Regions from separate parts of the Homo sapiens genome. Here region 1 is linked to region 2. Evidence: fine-mapped expression QTL. Tissue or cell type: tibial artery. Region 2 holds a variant in brackets; the other region holds the start of a gene. All regions are shown on one strand. Distances are from middle to middle.

Region 1 (10,409 bases), 24 kb after region 2:
AAAAAATTAAAAATTAATGGACATGGTGGTGTGCATCTGTAGTCCCAGCTACTCAAGAGGCTGAAGCAGGAGGATTGTTTGAGCCTGGAAGTTCAAGGCTGCAGTGAGTTATGATAGCACCACTGTACTCCAGCCTGGGCAATAGAGCGAGACTCTGTCTCTAAAAAGAAAAAAAAAAAAAAAAGGAAAAAAAAAGCGGCTTATTTGGCTCACAATTCTGCAGCCTGTACAAGAAGCATGGCACCTGCATTTGCATCTGGTGAGGGCCTCGTGCCCTTCCACTTAAAATGGAAGGAGAAGAGGAGCCGGTGTGTGCCGAGATCACAGAGGTAGGGGGTAGGTGCTAGGCTCTTTTTAACAACCAGCTCTTGTGGGAACTAATAGAGCAAGAACTCACTCCCTGCCTCACAATAGCATTAATCTATTCATAAAGGGGCCACCCCCATGACCTACCTCCCACCAGGCCCCACCTCTAACACTGGGGATCACATTTCAAGGTAAGATTCACAGGGGACAAACATCCAAATTATTGCACAGATACTCTCTGACTTCCTAAAAGGTGGCTTTGGCAATGGGGCCAGGGCTGCTTCTTGGTGTCAACCCACCTGCACGGAGGCTTCCCCAGTCTCTCGGTGGCCCAGGCTGCATTGCTGAGTTTCTAAGGGTCCGGGAATGAATCCAGCCAGTGCAGGCTAGAACACCACATCACAAATGACAGGTAGTTTTGTACAGGGTAAAAGTCACAACTTTTTTCCATGACCAATTTGTAAGCCTCACGATCTGCCATGCTGATTTACTGACCACAGGGTCACACATCCTCCAGCTGATAAGAAATGAGATGGCGTCTGCCGCATCCTCTGGCACCTGAGCTAATGCAGCTCTGTCCCCGGGTTGTCTGGGTCCGTGGGTTTCCTCTGGAGGGAACACAGCCGCTCTGGAGTCAGATGAGCCCTGAATATGGCGCCAAAGACAGCACCAAACAGCCTACTGTCACCACGCTGTCACCATGCAGATTGCTCATGCCCAGCCAACTTTCTGAGGTTGCAGGACACTGATGCCATATCTACATCCAGGCACCAACCTCAATTTAAAAAAAAAAATTTATTTTGAGACAGTCTCGCTTTGTCGCCTAGGCTGGAGTGCAGGGGCATGATCTCGGCTCACTGCAACTTCTGTCTCCCAGGTTCAAGTGATTCTCCTGCCTCAGCCTCCTGAGTAGCTGGGACTACAGGTGAGCACCACCATGCCCGGCTAATTTTTGTCTTTTTAGTAGAGACTGGGTTTCACCACGTAGGTCAGGCTGGTCTCAAACTCCTGACCTCAAGTGATCCACCCACCTCGGCCTCCCAAAGTGCTGGGATTACAGGCGTGAGCCACCGTGCCTGGCCGATCTTTTAAAAACATATTTACTTATTTATTTCATTTTTTGCTGTGCCACTGCCGGGTCACATTGATCTCCTTGGGCCAGCACTATATAAATCTCCAGTTTATAACTCGTCACCTTCTGGTTAGCTGAAAGGCTGGCCACTCATTCCACATGGTGTTTATCGGCTCTAATTGCCACGGTTGCTCACTAAAGAGCAGCCATGCGGGGCGCGGTAGCTCACGCCTGTAATCCCAACACTCTGGGAGGCCAAGGTGGGCGGATCACGAGGTCAGGAGATCGAGACCATCCTGGCCAATATGGTGAAACCCTGTCTCTACTAAATACAAAATTAGCCGGGAGTGGTGGCGCATGCCTGTAATCCCAGCTACTCGGGAGGCTGAGGCAGGAGAATTGCTTGAACCCAGGAGGCAGAGCTTGTGGCAAACAGAGATCGCAACATTGCACTCTAGCCTGGGCAACAAGAGTGAAACTTTATCTCAAAAAAAAAAAAAAGAAAGAAAGAAAGCTGCCATAATCCTGTGTCCTCTTTCCTGCTCACAGGTTCCCCGCTGCCCCACGTTTCTCCAGTGTGGCTGCCACGCACCAGTAAATCAGGGAGGGAGGTTTTTCCAAGCTGCAAAGCAGCAGATGTAGCTAAGACAGGGATCTCAGATTCCAGGCCAGGCAGCAGGCAGGAGATGGGGACATCAGCCAGGGACCTCAGCTTGGGCCACACCTTCCCCATCAGCCCCTACAAGCACAGCCGCACTCACTAAAAATTTCTCCAGCCAGACGCATCAGCAATGATCAAAGCTCCCCTTCCTCTCTTCCATCAGCAAAACCACAAAAAGCCTATCAGGCTGCCTCTGGCAGGAACTCAGAGCTCAGAGCAGGGGAGCAGCCTGCGCGAGGTTTCCAATCAGGCAAATCTGACTCTCCCCTTTTTAAGAGAACTGAAGACAAATTCTGAGAGTAGCCCACCAGACACACTTTCTCAACAACCATACGGCAAAAAAGTCGTTTTTGAACTTTCCCAGACTTATTAGCTTACATAAACAGAGATTTGAATAAATGTTTAAAAAATGAAATTCCCTGGATACCCTGTAATCAGTAAATGTTCATTATGGAAACACAGCAAATATGCATGAAATTTCCCAAGTGATATTCTGGCTACAAGATTATAAAGGCATCTCTAACAGCAGGCTGAGTTACAAAGCATCCTCTGTCGTCGGTTACAGTCCGAGGGGGATGTTCTACCAAGCCCAGGAGGTCAGACGAGCCTGCTCTCCTCTCCCAACTGGAGCCAAGGAAAATCAAAAGATGCTCATTTTGCCTGCTCAGGCAATTTATAAATGAGCCCCCACGCTGCCTGATGGATGCCTCTCGATAAATAATTAATCCTTGACCTTGCTTTAAGAAAGCCTTGACTTTTTAATTTGGGGTCTTTTTAAAAATCAATACCCGGGAAACATAATTCACTCTTGCCGAGTCTGATTCCAGGTTAATAAATAAATAAGTAAATAAATGAGCTGCACTGTTTGTGTGTCCCAGGGCGACTGGGCCAGGCAATGGGTCAGGTTCCGGCTTTGAGGTTTTTCTGTGTTCAAATGCTATTGGATAATTGATCAGCCAGTCCCACTGGAACCAACATTCAGACCCTCAAGAGGTCCCTCTCTTCAGGGTTCCAATGTTATTCCTCCCGTGGGTCACTTCACAGAGGCCAGTCTGCTGAACGCTCCTGAATGAACTCCCACGCCGCCTTCTGTGCTTGGGGTGTCCTGATTAAAATTAAAAGAGGATCTCCTGCTGGGATGAGTGTCCTTCCTGTGGCCTGTCTGCCTTGCCTTTGGGACAGGGCACAGGGTGGGCAGGAAAGGTCATGACAGCTGGAAAATGTTAAGGGCTCTGCCACACCTGCTCCACGGGTGCCCTGTCCTAGGGCAGGACTTAGGGAAAGACTTCCCCACAGGTAGGCAAGGGTCAAGGTGAACTCAGAAGAGAAAGGTTACCCAGGAAAGTGGGCTTGGTATTGTAGCTCCTGGGGGCCTTGGGCGGCGGTGGGAAATAAAAGGGGGTTGATCTGCCTCTTACCCCTCTGTCCCCCGCCCCTCTCCACCATCCACTCCAAAGCAGCTACTACCTCCCTGCACCCAACGCCTCTCCCACGTGCTCTGCTGCTGCGCCAGATCGCGCCAAGCAGATGGAGAGGGGCCGGGACGCGCGTTCCCCTTAACGGAGCTGATCACGGCTCCTGAGCCAGCGGGAGTGGCCCAGGGACGCAGAGTCCTCTGGGACGCCGGAGACGACTGCAGGACAGAGAGCCCCAGGATCGGCGCCTACTTCTGGGTTAAAACAGACAGCCGGGCAGCAGCGCCCACAGCCGAGGGCGCCGCAGCCGCTTCAACTCCGGGTCGGGGTCGCGGGCCTGGAGACAAGATGTACGCGAAAGTTAGGGCGGCGGGAGTCCCGCACTGGAGAAGGAATCGGGGTCACATCAGACCCAAGCCCCAGCATCGGGCACTGCCAAAACCCGTGATCGCCCTCCTGGCCCGGCTGGCCTCCAGCGAGGCCAGAGCGGGTCTGCAGAGTCGGTAGCCGGAGTTGCAGCCGCCGTCAGAGCTCGGCTCGGTCCCGCGGCCAAACGGATCATTTCCCCGCCCCCTGGAGCCGCCCCAGGCTCCGACTCCCGCACTCCCGACACACGCACGCACACACCTTCACACCATCGCTGACGCACGCACACTCGCCTCCAGCACTCACAGGCCGGTGCCCTGGAGAGTTGCGGGTCGGGGACGCGCGCGACGGAGCCGCTGGGTAGGAAGCCAAGGCCACTTAAACTTCCCCCATAGTCTCTGCCCGCCGCAACCCGTCCGGAGCCCCGGCTCCGAGCGCGCCAGGAAGCCCCAGCGCCCCGAGCGCTCCTGCCTGGCCCTCGGCGCTCGCTGCTCAGCGCCCGACGCCGCCTCCCCGCGGGCAGCACCGAGGGCCAGGAGGCGGAGCGGGAGTCCGCAGGGACCAAGAGGGCCCGAGGGACGGCAGTTCCCAGAAGCGCGGCAGCGAGTGAGATCCAAGGAGAGAAAGTCTAATTAAAGTTCCCGCTACCGGGGCCGGTCCCCAAAGTGCAACCAGACCCGAGCCCCGCGCGCCCACCTCCGCCCGCAGCTTCGGACTCCCATTCGCGTGCGGTGGCGGGGATGGCGAGCGGTGCAGTCCGGGGCCCGCTCGGGACCCCTTCCTGGCGTCTCTGCAGGCCAGGAGCCTGCGCAGGGCGGGAACAGGGGTGGGGCAGGGGCGCAGCCACTTACCTGGCGCAGCGGACGCACCCGAGGCCGCGGGCGCCTCCAGTCCGGGAGCGGTTCTCCGCGGCGGATCCTCTGCTTGGGGCGCGCAGGCGGCGGAGAGGACCTCCGACCCAGCTCGGGCCCGGTGCCTCCGCCCGCTCCAAGCGGAACCCAGTGCGATCTGTGGGCGAGCAGCGTGGGGCCGGCAGCCGGAGCGTGCGGGGAGCGAGAGGGCGCGGGGCGGCGTTCCTCTTCGGCCCCCGGCGCGATCGGTCCCCCACCTCCTGCTGCCGCCGCCGCCTCGTCCTCTCTCCTCCCCGCAGCACTGCCGGATCCGGCTTGCGCGCCGGGAAGGCTCCCAGCGAAGTGAGAGCGAAGCCTCCGGCGAGGCTGGAAATAGCGCCGCGCCCGCCCGGCGCCCCGCCCCCGGCCCGTGCCCCGCCCCGCCGTGGTGGCGGCTACGGCGGTGGCCGGGCCGGGCGGGGATCGCTCCAGCGATGCACTCGGCCCTCCCGGGGGCTCGCGGGCGCCGCGCCCACGCGCGCTCTGCGGCTCCCGCGGCCCCTCTGGCAGCGCTCTCAGAAAGAGTCGCTGCTGGGCGCGGTCCGGCGGCCGCGGGGGTGGGAGCGGTCGTGGCTGGGGCTGCGCCGGTCTCCCGGTTCAGGAGAGCCGGACTCCGGCCTGACGCTAGGCTCCAGACCGCGGCCAGTGCTGCCACTGCCTCGGTGGGTCGCACGCGGCGCCAACCCGGGAAAAGGACCAGGCGTCACCGGGGCGGGCCTTGACCACAGCGGGGCAGGGGCGCGCGCCCAGGACCCGATGCTGCGGGGGCGCAGGGCCGGTGAAAGGCGGAAGATTGATCCTGAGGAAGATTCTGGGATATCCCTGGGCTTCAGCTCGCGTGGAATTCGGTCAAGGCCGCGAGCTGCCTCAGGCCCGGGTGTCCGCATCCATCCTCAAATCCCTGGGGCTCTAGATTCTGCTGAAAGTGCCCTGCGAACAGGTGCTCCCTTCAGGACTTCATCCTGGAAGTTTGTGTCGGGTCACCAGCCTGAGAGCGGGGCCAACCGACCCTCTTCATACACACTCGGGAAAACAGCGTGGAGGGTGGAACCGGCCCACGGCCACACAGCACCGGGACAGAGTAGGGACAGGAACACGGGGCCCTGGATTCGGGTCCTTGTTCTTCCTAAGAAGAGGCAGCCCCAGCCTGCAGGGGACAAGCAGGCCTTGGGAAGGGGGGCAACTGCTTTCTCACAGGAGCTGGAGGAAACTGTGCACACAGTCACCTGTTAGTCTTGAAGGGACACTCAGTATTTTCAAACAACAGCAGAGAAGCCTTTAATAAAGTGAAAGACCCTTACTCTCTCCTCTCTAATGGTACCTGCTGGCTGGTTGGCCTGACTCCTACCAGCTGACCTAGAGTGAGTGATGGAATTGGGGAGTGAGCTGGGCCCATGGGTCTTGACTGACCAGAGTGGGGGACACCAGGCGGAGAGCAGAGCCACTCCTGGGGACGGCCAGGGAGCCCCTCAGCCCCAGGGCCATGAGGCCTCCTTAATGCCCCAGGTAAGCTCAGAGCATCCAAAAATAGACCAGGACAGATAAGAAGATAAATAGAAGCATGACAAAGAGATCATGGTCTTCCTTTAATTCTTGCAGCAACAGAGTAGACATTATCACTCCCGTATTACAGATGAGCGAATTGAGATGCAAAAATGCCACCATTTTGCTGGACTCCACGCATCTGGAGAATGGCCCAGGTGTGATGATTCCAAACTGGGATAGGCTTTGTTCTGGGGTTCCCTTTCCAGGACTTTAGGCTCGGAGTGACCCAGGCCTGGGGCTGCGCTGGGACCCAGGCACACTCCACTGGCTGCACGCATGAGGGGAATGTGTGTGTGTGTGTGTGTGTGTGTGTGTGTCTGAAATCACCCTCCTCCGCCTCAGTCAGGTGCAGATTGGAGGAGCTGAGTGCAAGGGCCAGGGACTCAAGTGTCAGGAAAAACAGGGCAGTGGAACCCTTATTCATCCTACATCCCAAAGCTGTTGGAGCAGAGCAGGAGAGAAGGTAGGAACAAAGAGAGGGGAGAGTGGAGTGAGCAAAAAGTCACTTGCCGGACTAGCTCACAGTGCAATGACCCCATCCCTGTCCCTGTGGTCCCCTTACCCCACACTTGCAGCCCCTCTTGCCACCCAAGGTCCTGACCATAGCTTGGCTGGGCAGCTGCCCATGAGCTCCCTGTCTGCAGTTAGGCCTGGAACAGAGCACACAACTTTTGCCACAGAGGCCTGATGGTCAAGAGAATCTCTTCAGTACCATGAACACTCCAGAGGGCAAATGCATGCACACACACACACACATGCACACACACGGAGAGAGAAAGAGAGACTTAACTGCAATGGGGAGATAATAGGAGCTCCCATTTCCAGAGCCCAGCCTCAAAGCTGGAAAGGGGGCTCTGGACCATGAGTACTTCCATGCGACAAGTCTACACAGGCTTTATTTCCCTGGGATGCATCTATACAGGCTTTGCCGTGACCAGTGAGTGGAGCGAGCCAAGCCATCTCAGCAACACTGTGCATCTGTGTGCCGCGATCCTCCTGGGAAGGATGGTTTTTCCATTAGCTTTCCCAACTGTACTTATTAGCACTTATTTGCATCTAATATTCAGGCAGACACCACTAGGAATCAATAACGCTGCATTCCTTTGACATTCTCTCCATTTTCCATTTTTAACTCAGACTTCCTTCTTGTTTTGAGAGGCCATGGGGGAAATCCCCAAAGGGGGCCTGAGGCCCCTGGCACCAACTCGCAGTGAGTTTTCCTCCGAGATTTGCCAAGGGCTGCGTGCCCTTTTTTGAAAGTCAGGCTCAGCCTCTGCAGCGAGGGAGGAGCAGGAAGGCTGCAATTCCCTGCAGGAAGCCTTGTGTGCTCACTTGCGATTTTTGATATGTGTGTCTCCACCGAAAGATTAGTGGCAAACTTGTCTCTTTGCATCCCAACTAAGGTGAAAGACATTTTTAGTGCATGGCCCCATGCGCCCACAGCCTAAGCCCCAGAAGGGCTAATAGAGAGGTTCAGGTGCCAATCTGTTTGCTGCAACAAGGATACAGGAAAGAGGAGGGGGCTTGGCTCTGGGACGCAGGCAGACCCCCGCCTCCACTGGCTCTGGGCTCCCTTTCCTCAGGCCGTTCCTGCAAGTGAAGGTTCCTGCCCGTCTTTGGGCTGGAGGCTGAAGGTGGCACAGTGGGAAGCTGAGACTGTCTCACATTGTGTTTGGCAAGACTGAGTCTTGAGTCCTGAACCTTCCATCTGTTGCCATGAGAGGAACCAGAACAGGCTGGGCATGGTGGCTCATGCCTGTAATTCCAGCACTTTGGGAGGCTGAGGTGGGCAGATCACTTGAGGCTAGGAGTTTGAGACCAGCCTGGCCAACATAGCAAAACCCCATCTCTACTAAAAATACAAAAGTTAGCAGGGCATGGTGGTGCTCACCTGTAGCCCCAGCTACTCAGGAAGCTGAGGCAGGAGAATCACTTGAATCTGGGAGGCAGAAGTTGCAGTGAGCTGAGATTGTGCCACTGCACTCCAGCCTGGGTGACAGCGTGAGACTCTATTAAAAAAAAAAGAAGAAGGAGAAGGAGAAGGAGAAGAAGAAGAAGAAGAAGAAGAAGAAGAAGAAGAAGAAGAGAAGAGGAAGAAGAGGAAGAAGAGGAGGAAGAGGAGGAAGAGGAGGAAGAAGAGGAAGAAGAGGAAGAAGAAGAAGAAGAAGAAAAGAAGAGGAAGAAGAGGAAAAAGAAGGAGGAGGAGAAGAAGAGGAAGAAGAAGAAGAAGAAGAAGAAGAAGAAGAAGAAGAAGAAGAAGAAGAAGAAGAAGAAGAAGAAGAAGAAGACGAGGAAGAAGAAGAAGAAGAAGAAGACTTGTTCCACAGAGGAGTTTGGGAGCCATCTATACTGGCAGGTCGGGAACACCTCATCTGTCTCCCTGCATCCCATGGGAGGAAGAAGGGAATGATGGGATGGGCCAGGAGGTCTGCTTCAGCTCTCCCAGGTGCCAGCTAGGGGGTCTTGAACTTGTCTCCTAACCCCTCAGAGCCTGTTCCCTGTATGCAGAGACAATAGACTGTCCCTGCAGAGGAAAGGTGAAGGGTGTCATGGCATTTTGGGAATTGGAGTCCTGTGACCAGACTGCCCTTAGCCACCCACAGACTAGTCACCTCAGGGTATGACGTGGCCTGGCCTTGCTTCCACGTCCAACATCTGGCCCTGTAATGGCCTCTGCAATATTGTGACCCCAAGGCTTCCTGAAGTCAGTTCAACACACAGACAGGCCAGTGACGTGCTGATCAGAGTGCCATCCAGGCGGGAGACTCCTCCTGGGAACGGACCTGCCTTCCTCAGCTGCTCTCTGGGGCCTGTGTGGGCTCCGGGCCATGCCTTCCCTCCCCAGGCCTCGACCTCCCCATTCGAAAGATGAGGGATGGGGGCCCAGGATCTGAAGGCCTGCTGTGCAATTCCATGATTCCTAAAAGTTCCTCACCAGGGAACGTGGCCCAGACTCATTTCCAGCCAAGGTATCCCTTGGCCACCTTATGGGATGAATGTTCCTTCCCAGGCCTTTTCCTCCTCTCTCCTTTCCCCTTTTCTGTCACCTCTTGGGTTTTCAAGGAGCTGGAGGGTCACTTTGTTTCCTTCTGAGTTGAGTTGTCTGAAATTTCCTGATGTCAATATGCCTGGGTGGGTATCCCCTGCATAAGCAACATTGCTGGGGGTTCTGGGCATCCCTGAACCCCATATACCTGTCACAATTTCGAAATTTCACCATCATTCCTCAGGGTATAAGAATGGTTTCTCTTGGCTGGGTATGGTGGCTCACGCCTGTAATCCCAGCACTTTGGGAGGCAGAGAAGGGCAGATCACAAGGTCAGGAGTTCAACACCAGCCTGGCCAACATGGTGAAACCCCATCTCTACTAAAAACACAAAAATTAGCCAGGCGTGATGGTGCACGCCTATAATCCCAGCTACTGGGGAGGCTGAGGCAGGAGAATTGCTTGAACCCAGGAGGTGGAGGTTGCAGCGAGCTGAGATGGCGCCACTGCACTCCAGCCTGGGTAACAGAGCAAGACTCCGTCTGAAAAAAAAAAAAAAAAAAAAAGGAATAGTTTCTCTTTAAAGAGAAGTTTTTCTGGGGCAGGCTAAAGTGACACCAGTCCTTAACACAGAAGAGAGTTGGTGAACAGATGTGGTTTTCTAGAGAGTGCACAACAGAAACTATGACTAACTTGCAAAGAAAGGGGAGACTTTATTTTTCTGAGACAGAATCTCACTCTATCACCCAGGCTGGAGTGCAGTGGCATGACCCTAGCTCACTGCAACCTCAAACTCCTGGGCTCAAAGGGTCCTCCCACCTCGTTCTCCTGAGTAGCTGGGAACACAGGTGTGCACCACCATGGCCAACTAATTTTTTATTTTTTATTTTCTGTAGAGACAGGGTCTCACTGTGCTACCTAGGCTGGTCTCGAACTCCTAGGCTTGAGTCATCTTCCTGCTTGGCCTCCCAAAAGTGTTGGGATGATAGGCATGAGCCACCATGCCCTGCCAGACTTTCTTAAAAGGACACTGGGGAATCCAACAGAGCAGAGAGGCGCTGAGTACCCAGGAGGGAAGAAGGCAGGAACCAGGGAATAAGGTTCGAGTACTCTGGGGGCAGCTGTTGGCTCTCTAGGATGGGTCGCCATCCCTAGAGCTGCAGACCAC
Region 2 (10,409 bases):
ATATTAAAGTCAGGAATAGAACAAGAGAAGCCCACTGTTATTTAACATTGTCCGGAAAATACTTGCCAATTCACCTAGAAATGAAAATTAAATAGAAAGCATAAATCAGTAGAAAACAGAAAGGAGAAAATCTTCATGACCTTAGGTGGGTTTAGACTTTCTTAGACACAATACCAAAAGCATAAGCAATACAAATAAAAATAAGAGAAATTGGATTTTATCAAAATTGAAAACTTTTGTACTGCAAATGATACCATCAAGAAAATATGGCAACCCACAGAACAAGATAAAATTTGCAAATCATATATTTAATATGAAACTTGTGGCCAGGTGTGGCAGCTCATGTCTGTAATCCCAGCACTTTGGGAGGTTGAGGTGGGCAGATTACCTCAGGTCAGGAGTTCAAGACCAGCCTGGTGAAACCCCCATCTCTACTAAAAATACAAAAATTAGCCATGCATGGTGGCACATGCCTGTAGTCCCAGCTACTTGGGAGGCTGAGGCAGGAGAATCGCTTGAACCCGGGAGGCGAAGGTTTGCAGTGAGCCAAAATCACACTACTGAACTCCAGCCTGGGTGACAGAGCAAGACTGTCTCAAGATAAAACAAAAACAAAAGCAAAAAAATTAACCAGGTGTGGTGGCGGGTGCCTGTAATCCCAGCTACTTGGGAGGCTGAGGCACGAGAATGGTTTGAACCTGGGAGGAGAAAGTACCAGTGAGCCAAGGTCACACCACTATACTCCAGCCTGGACGACAGAGTGAGAGACTATGTCTCAAAAAAAAAAAAAAAAAAAAAAAAAAAAAGAAAAGAAAAAGAAAAAGAAAAAGAAAAGAAAAAAAAGAAACTTGTATCCAGAATAGATTAAAAAAATCCTTCCAACTTGATAATTTAAAAAATTTAACAACTCAATTAATTTATGGGCAAAGGATCTGAATAGATAGTCTCACAACTCAATTAATTTATGGGCAAAGGATCTGAATAGATAGTCTCTGAGAACTAAAAAGAAAATCCTAAGTCCCCCAACTGAATAAACAGTCCCCCTCTTGGCCAAGAGGAACCCAGAGAAATCTTAAAAACTGGGTTCCTGGCCATGCTGGGACGGGAGGTTGGACACACACCTCTCCCTTGCTAACCACCGTTAGACTTCCTCTCCTAAGAGTGACTACAGCAGGACTCCCATCCCTTTTGTGGTTTAGACACAACAACTGACCAGCATGAACATTAACACAGAGATCATAAGACTCACAGAACAGACTCTTTGTGGCAGTAAGACACCAAGTTATAAACATTACCTAAGGCCATGCCAGGCAAGGATAAAGTCACACACCCCTACACTTTTTATACTACTATTTATAAAAGTAAACTATGCTCTAACTGCCACAGGAGTTTCTTTTTCTCTAGCAGCTAAACAAGCACTGGTTTGGAGATAAACAATACTGAAACAATTGCAGCTTACCCACCGCCAGGCACTAACTGACCCCCTACCCCTCTGATTTACCAGCCATAACTGCAGCTTTGATTGGACAAGAGACTGATTTCAGTAACTTTCTCCTAATAAGAGACTACCCACCATGGCCTGGTTCTGGCCGGTTTACAGAGGCTGCTGTGCACTGAATACCTTCATGTCCTTTTGACATGTAGGGTTTAACTGTAATGCATTTATATGCAAAGTCTGCTACCTAAGGTAAACAAGGTAAACATGGGACGCATGTAACGTGCATGTTTGTTCAGTATGTATGCGTCCAGACCCCCCTCATGAATGTTCATAGTTCTTCCTGTAACTTGCTGAATATGCGTATTTGGCCAGCCCGTTCAGCATAAATTCCTGTTCCACCCTGCCCTCCCTCGAAGTGCTTGCTTTCGGTTTTCAGGTGGAGGCTGCGCTTCCGGCCTGTAGGTTGTGAACCCCTTCTTAAGAAATAAAGTTCTCCTTTCTAAGTCTATAAATCATGTGTTTTTTCAGCTGACATCTCCAAAGACATCCAAGTAGCAAATAAGCATGTGAAAAGATGCATCCCCAATGAGATACATCATTACTCATTGGGGAAATGCAAACCCAAACCACAGTGAAATACTAGCACACAAACACTAGGATGGCTGTGATCAGAAGGATAGACAGGCCGGGCACAGTGGCTCCTGTCTGTAATCCCAGCACTTTGGGAGGCTGAGGTGGGCAGATCAATTGAGCTCAGAAGTTTGAGACCAGCCTGGCCAACATAGTGAAACCCTGTCTCTAATAAAAATACAAAAATTAGCCGGGCTTAGTTGCGGGCGCCTGTAGTCCCAGCTACTCGGGTGGCTGAGGCAGGAGAATGGTGTGAACCTGGGGGGTGGAGCTTGCAGTGAGCCGAGATCGCCCCACTGCACTCCAGCCTGGATGACAAAGCGAGACTCCAACTCAAAAAAAAAAAAAAAAAAAGTGCTTCATTCCTTTTTACGCCTGAATAATATTGCATTGTACAGATATACACATTTATTATTATATTTTATCCATTCATCTATTGATGGATATTTGGGTTGTTTCTACCTTTTGGCGATTATTAATAAAGCTGCTGTGTACACATTCGTGTACAAAGTCTTTGGGGACATATATTTTCATTTCTCTTGGGTATACACCCAGGAGTGGAATTGCTGGGCCATTTGGTAAATCTATGCTTAACCTCTTGAGGAATTGCTAGACCGTTTTCCAAGAGTGCTGGGATTATAGGCATGAGCCACCACGCCCAGTCAACTTTAATTTTTTTAATTTTTTATTTTTTAGAGATGGGAGTACTTTTAATACAACATGGCTGAACCCTGAAACCATTATTATGCTAAGCGGAAAAAAAGACCACGCATTGTAGGATTCAATTGACATGAAATGTCCAGAATAGGCAAATGTATAGAGACAGAAAACAGATTAGTGTTTGCCTAGGACTGGGCAGGAAGGAAGGGGAGTGACTGTGAATAGCACAGGGTTTCTTTCTGGAGTGATGAAAATGTTGTGGAATTGACTGTGGCGATGGGCGCACAACACTGGGAACATACTGAAAACCATGGAATTGCACACTTCAGGTGGGTGAATGGTGAGGTATGTGATTATGTCTCAATAAAGCTGTTAACAGAGAGAGAAACACAGAGGAGAGAGAGAGAGAGGACTTCCAGACCCTAGTGACCATATTTGCATCCACTGTTCTGCCCTCCCGGCTTTGACCCTAGGAGAATTGTCTGTGCTTCTACCTATGGCCAATCCCCCACATCCACCAGCTCCAATACTCTAAGCTTCTCAAGGACTGGGCTCAAACAGTTCTCCCCTCTGAACTACCTGTTTTTCACATTCTATTCTATCAGTCTCATCAGCATACAGATATACTGTGATTTCTCCAATCCTAAAAAAAAAAATAAAAACCCCCAAAACAAAAACCTTTCAACCCCTCTTCCCTCAGCAGCTATCTTCTCATTTCTTTTTTATTTTATTTTATTTATTTATTTATTTTGAAACGGAGCATCACTCTGTTGCCCAGGCTGGAATGCAGTGGCATGATCTCGGCTCACTGCAACCTCCGCCTCCCGGGTTCAAGTGATTCTCCTGCCTCAGCCTCCCTAGTAGCTGGGATTACAGGTGCACGCCACCATGCCTGGCTAATTTTTGTATTTTTAGTAGAGACAGGGTTTCATCATGTTGGCCAGGCTGGTCTCGAACTCCTGTCCTCAAGCGATCCACCCGCCTCCGCCTCCCAAAGTGCTAGGATTATAAGCGTGAGTCACCGCACCAAGCCTATCTCCCCATTTCTTTGCCCTCATTTGCAGCAAAACACCTTGAGTTATCCCTATTCACAATCTCCAGTGTCTCTCTTCCCATTCTATCATATACTCACCAAAATCAGACCTTTGTTCCACCAAAGCCATTCTTGCCTGGAGCACATTGCAGAACCCACTGATCAGCCCTTGGTCCTCACCCACCTGGCCTGCCACCAGCATTGGGCAAAAGGGACCATGCATTCCTCTGTGGTGCACTTTCCTCACTTGGCTCCCAGGACGTGATAGTCTCCTGCTTTCTTCCTGTCTCACTGGTCCCTTCTTGCCTTGCTTTGGGTCTTCCTCATCTCCCTGGAGTCTTCGCGTTGGAATATTCCCGCTCTCAGTTATTGGTCCTCTTTGTGTCTCTATTTGCACTCCCTCGCTGACCTCGATCAGTCTTCAGGCTTTAGAAACTATCTATATGTTGATGACTCCCAAATGTATTATCTCTGAAACCACCTTTGCACCTTTGTAATACGACTGCGAGAGAAATCTGATAGCTGACTCCATTTTGCTCCTAACCTCACAAGCTGTCTTTGTTCATTCCTGGGCATAGGCCAAGCTAACTGTGGGAGGAATTTAGCTCATAGCTTAACTTTATTTTATTTATTTTTATTTAGTTATTTTGAGACAGAGTCTCACTCTGTCACCCAGGCTGGAGTGCAAGGGAGCGATCTTGGCTCAATGCAACCCCCGCCTCCCAGGTTCAAGCAATTCTCCTGCCTCAGCCTCCCAAGTACCTGGGACAAACAGGTGTACGCCACCATGTCTGGCTAATTTTTGTATTTTGAGTAGAGACAGGAGTTCACCATGTTGGCCAGGCTGGCCTCAAACTCCTGGCCTCAACTGATCTGCCGGCCTCAGCCTCACAAAGTGCTGGGATAACAGGCGTGAGCCACTGTGCCTGGCCCATAGTTCAACTTGAAAACAAAGATGACAATAGTCCCTTCCTGAAACTAACCCCCTCCTTGCTCAGGGACTAAAGCCACCTTTGTGAAACTAACAAATTAGCCACAAGGTCAAAAGATTTTACACCATCCCCAACTGCTCCTGTAGATAACATCACTATTGTAAAACCTACGACTAGTGTTTGAGGTATCTTTCAGACCTTGCTTTCCCATGGACCAGCTGGTGCCACCTGAACCAGTAACCCATACCAAGAAACTGGCTCAAATGATCTTGTGACCCCCACCCGGAAACTGTCATAGCACAATAAATGAAGAAGCTATAACTTCTACCCCCTATAATTTCATCCCTAACACAGCCGGCCAGCATTCCCCATTCCCTAGTACCCTGTCCACCAAACTATCCTTGAAAGACTCTAGCCTCCAAATTTTTAGGAAGGCAGGTTAAGAATTTATCTCCCAACTACTGCCAGGATTGCCTTGCAATTATTAAACTTTTGTTTTTTTTTGAGACAGAGTCTTACTCTGTCTCCCAGGCTGGAGTGCCATGATGCCATCTCAGTTCACTGCAGCCTCAAACTCCTGGGCTCCAGCAATCCTCCCACCTCAGCCTCCTGAGTAGCTGAGACCACAGGCATGTACCAGCATGCCCAGCTAATTTTTTGTATTTTCTGTAGAGATGGGGTATCGCCATGTTGCCCAGGCTAGTCTTGAACTCCTGGCCTCAAGCAATTCACCCACCATGGCCTCCCAAAGTGCTGAGATTAGAGGCATGAGCCACCACACCTGGCCCTCACTAAACTCTTTTTCTGCTGTAATACTCCTGCTCTTCTCTGTGTATTGGCTTTTCTG[G/A]GCAGCCAATAAGAAGAACCCATTGGGGTATAACATCTCCAGCTCTAACCTCTCTCCATAACTCCAAACTTGTATATCCAACCAAATATTCAACATCTGCCATTGCATGTGTACTGGACATCCTAAATCCTGTATGTCCTTCACCGAATGTTTAGCCTAAGCCCCTCCAACAGCTGTTCCACCCACTCTTTCCCACCTCAGCTGTGGGTCACTCCATCCTTCTAGCCGCTCAGACCAAAAGCTATCTCTTCCTCACACCCCATCTAACCCATCAGGAAATCTTGTTGGCTCTGCCTTCAAATATATCTAGAATCAACCCATCTGCTCACGTCCACTGCCAGCATCTTGGCTGGATCATCCTCTCCCACTGCCAGGCCTCTTTGCCCCTTACCATGGCAGCAACAGGGAACCTGTTTTAAAATATAATTTCAATCATTGCACTTCTCTGTTCAAAACCCTGCCATTGCTCCCCACGCACACAGAGTAAAGTCGAATTTCCTACTCTGTACTCTGTTCTGCAGGGCCCACATCTCTGTCCCCCGCCCCCACACGGCCTCATCTCCAGCGGGCCCTGTCCCCCAACTCCTGACTTCCTCGCCGTTCCTTTCACTGGGTGCCCTCTCTGCCCACACTCATCTTCACCCAGGTCAGAATTTCTCAACCTCCACACTACGGACATTTGGGGTCAGATGGTCCTCTGTCATGGGGGCTGTCCTATAGACTGTAGAGTGTTTAGCAGTGTCCCTGGGCTGTAGCCACCAGATGCCAGGAGCATCCTTGAGTCATGACCATCAAAAATGTCTCCAGCTGTTGCCAAATTCCCCTGGGAATACAATCGCCCAGGCTGAGAACCACTGGCCTAGACCATCTGTATGGTCCACATCTTCCCAACCTCTAATCTCATCTCACCTTCTCAGGGAGGCCCACCTTGACCCTTCCCTTCCTCCCTAACCCCACACTTCCAATCCCTCTTAGCCTACTTGGCTTTTTAAAGCAAGTGCCACATTCTAACACTACATAATTCATTTATTTTTTATTTTTTTAGAGACAGGGTCTTGCTCCGTTGCCCAGGCTAGAGTGCAGTGGCACAGTCATGGCTCACTGCAGCCTCCACCTCCTGGAATCGACTGATCCTCCCGCCTCAGACTCTCAAGTTGCTGGGACTACAAGTGCACACCACCATGCCTGGCTAATTAAAAAAAAATTTTTTTTTTTAGAGACGGAGTCTTGCTATGTTGCCCAGGCTTGTCTCAAACTCCTGGCCTCGAGGGATCCTCCCGCTTCGGCTTCCCAAAGTGCTGGAATTACAGGCATGAGCCACCACACCCGGCCATCATATACTTAAGTATATTAGTGTTCACTGTCTGCTGCCCTTACCAGAACACTGACTCCATGGGGGCTGGGATTCACCTCTGCTTCACGTCCTGCTGTATCCCCCAGTGCCTAGAACAGTACCTGACATGCACCCAGCACACACTTTGTTCTCCATAAATATTTGTTGAGTACATGGATCAGCTCAGAAGACCCAGTATAATAATAATAAATACAGTAAATCTGGGAACACTGGCTCATGCCTGTAATCCCAGCACTTTGGGAGGCTGAGGTGGGTGGATCACCTGAAGTCAGGAGTTCGAGACTAGCCTGGCCAACATGGTGAAACCGCATCTCTACCAAAAATGCAAAAATTAGCCAGGTGTGGTGGCAGGTGCCTGTAGTCCCAGCTACTCGGGAAGCTGAGACAGGAGAATGGCTTGAACCCAGGAGGTGGAGGTTGCAGTGGGCTGAGATCGAGCCACTGCACTCCAGCCTGGGTGACAGAGCGAGACTCCGTTTCAAAAAATAAAAAATTAATAAATAAATAAAGTAAAGGAGTCAATGTATCCTTATTTGTAAGGATAAATAGTAAACTTATCCTAAATTTATGTGTAAGTGAAACACTATCCTAACACTAATCTTCGCTAGATATTATTTGAAATGTGACGCCCTACATCCAAAATAATAAAAATGTGATATCACACAAGAATCATAATAGAGGGGATCTGCCTCCTAAGATACTAGAAATGCGCTCCTAAGCTACGATAATTAAAATCGTGGGTGCTGGGACTAGAAGAGTCAGGCTAGAACAGAAGAGTATAGAAGAGGCCCTAGTTAACACAGGAATTAAGCAAATGGTCAAGGTGGCATTTAAAAATCAGCAAGCAAAGAGTGAATGTTCCATAAATGATGCTGGTACAACTGGCTGGCCATTTCGCACCTGCGGCATATGTGTGTTATTTAGAAATATGGAGGCAGAACTGCAGTGCCTGCTGGGGAAATGGCTAGAAGAGTCATAGGTGGCTGCCTCCAGAACACGGGCTCAGGAGAGCTGGGGAGGGAGGGAGCAGAGAACTGGTAGATTTGTTAAAAGCCTTTTTTTTATTATTTATGCCTTCTTAAGCTATGCACATGCATGACTTTGGTAAAAATAAAATGTATGTTAAAAAGGCAATAATCACGCCCCTCTTTAACCTATCTAATTGACACAGATTTAAAAAATAAAAAACAAAGATTCCCAGTGCGGTTGTGATTATGAGAAAAAATAGGCCCGCTCACGCACCGCTTGGTCTTTCTGGAAGGTGATTTGTTGGGAAGTACTAAAAGTTTTAAAGACGGGCATACCCTTTGAGACAACTATTCCACTTCTAGGAATTTATGCTGGGATGGCACAAAGGTATACTGCAAGAAGGTTCATGTCAACATGCTTTAAAATTGAAAAACAAAAACGAAAACCCCCAAAATGTCCAACAAGGAACCGGTTCTATAAATTATGATAAATTCATGGAAAGGGATGCCGTGTAGGTGTCAAAAGCAAGACAGAAACAGATTCATCACCATGGAAAAGAATTCATGATATGCAAAGTGATTAAACAGGTTATGTGCGGTAGGCATAAAGATTATTGCATTTTGATAAAATGAAAATGATTTACGAGTTTACGTATATAAAGCGATAGAGACGTAAGGTAGCCCCTTCTCTGGGACAATGTATGCCAACACCAGAGCCAGAAGGATTCAAAGGACGGTAAGACTTTAATCTTCTTTTTGCTCTTGCAAAGGCATTTCCGCAGGGAATCTTTAAGACTCCTGGCTGGGCGCAGTGGCTCACGCCTGTAATCCCAGCACTTTGGGAGGCTGAGGCAGGCAGATCACTTGAGGTCAGGAGTTCAAGACCAGCCTGGCCAACATGGTGAAACCCCATCTCCACTAAAAATACAAAACTCAGCCGAGTGTGGTGGTGCGTGTCTGTAATCCCAGCTACTAGGGAGGCTGAGGCACAAGAATTGCTTGAACCCAGGAGGCAGAGGTTGCAAAGAGCCGAGATCGTGCCACTGCGCTCCAGCCTGGGCGACAGAGACCCTATCTCAGAAAAAAAGAAAAAAAAAAGACTTATGAAGGTGGAAGCTAGAATGCTGAGGTCAGATTCCTTGGAAGTGGGAGGTGGAGTGGGGGGGGGCCCTCTGCTGCCCACTCATCCACGGGGTCCTGGGGGAGTGGGCCAGACTCCAGAGGCACACAGAGCCCAGCCAGTCGCCCACCCATCTGCAGTCCCAGAGGTGAGGGCTTTGGCCCCTTCCCAGCAGACAGGGATGTCCCAGAACAAAGGCCACAGTCAGTGGGTGCTGAGCCCCACAGCCCTGCAGCCATGGCCTGTGGTCTTGGTGGTTCCTGTCCCTTTCCAGGGCTCTGGTGAGACACTAGGCCCCAGGCCCTCATCCTCCAGGCGGAAATCATCCACCTTGTCAGTGAAGTTCTGGACTCCAAATTCTTCAGGCCCAGAGGCCAAAGTAATATACAGACATATGGTTTGGTCAGCGTAGGACTTTGGTTTTAAATTCTGAATTAGTCTCCAGACTTCAGAGGGGAAGCGATTTCATATAAAAATGGACCTGTGTTCTTGAATATGTGAATACCTGGCCACCCTGGAAACCCTCATCCCTTTCTGCGATGACAGCGGGAGTCCCACTGCCCCCTTCCAAAGCAGCAGGTCCCCCCTCCCCACACACCGCCCCCGACATCCCAGACCATACCCCTCCTTTGCCCTGAGGCCTGACTCCAAGGGTAGCTAAATTTTCCACCCTGGGCTGTCCAGAACCCCCTCATTTCTGGGCTATCTGAGGCTCCTTCTCCCTACTTTACCAGCCCCCTTCTTCCCTTCCATCTTCAGCTATGGGAACCAGTTCCAATACACCACCAATCCCCAGCCGGTGTGCCACCTTGCCCCCCTGGGGAGATAGAAGTTTCCTTGCAGAAAACTCCTCACCGCAAGCTGAGGTGTGGCAGCTCAGATCTGGGGGAGCCCTTAACCCTGCTGCTCCTCAAACCCTGCCCAGGGGGTGGTGGGGCGGAGATCTAGGCTGAGACTGAGAAGCTGGTCAGTGCCTCACCCCCAGTCCTGACCTCAAGAAGGGGTCTCGGGCCAGAAACAGCAATCCTGTTCCCCGAGGACTCTGATCCTGGCAGAAGAGGACTCACCCAGCCTACCATGGGTTTAGGAACAGGTAAGTCCCTAAGAGCCAGGATCTTGGGCTGAGTTGCCTGGATGCTCTGGGATGGACGGTGCAGACAGGTTTGTAGGGAAGGGCTCTCGGGACAGCCACCTGCGAGGAGCTGAGGAGGGCAGGAGCAGGCAGAGAGAGAAGCCGACAGCAGTGCCTCTCAGCTGAGGACTCAGCCCATCCCATAGGTGCTCTGGTGCTGGGAGGGACCTTCAGGGCAGTCCCAAATGGAGACAAGGGGCTGGGCCTTTGTGATCCCACAGCAGTAGCAGTCCCTGGCGGTGGGATGGGGTGTGACTTTGGGCAAGGAGCTCCCTGGGGCCCAGGGCAGTTCCCA

Evidence for each region. PIP is the estimated chance that this variant, and not a neighbour inherited with it, causes the effect.
Region 1: it holds the start of CHST8, and the variant in region 2 is fine-mapped to the expression of CHST8 in tibial artery (GTEx, PIP 0.99).

Annotation. Positions count from the first base shown.
Region 1 is chr19:33,616,559-33,626,967 of GRCh38, reverse strand. CHST8 (carbohydrate sulfotransferase 8) reads right to left here and starts at 5,015. Exons shown (of 5, transcript NM_001127895.2): 1 at 4,672-5,015. RefSeq lists an enhancer at 5,310-6,054.
Region 2 is chr19:33,640,916-33,651,324 of GRCh38, reverse strand. All of the region lies in intron 1 of CHST8 (carbohydrate sulfotransferase 8), which reads right to left. Among named protein-coding and RNA genes, the nearest start is that of CHST8, 24 kb to the right of the region's middle. The variant G/A (reference allele first, on the strand shown) is at 5,541.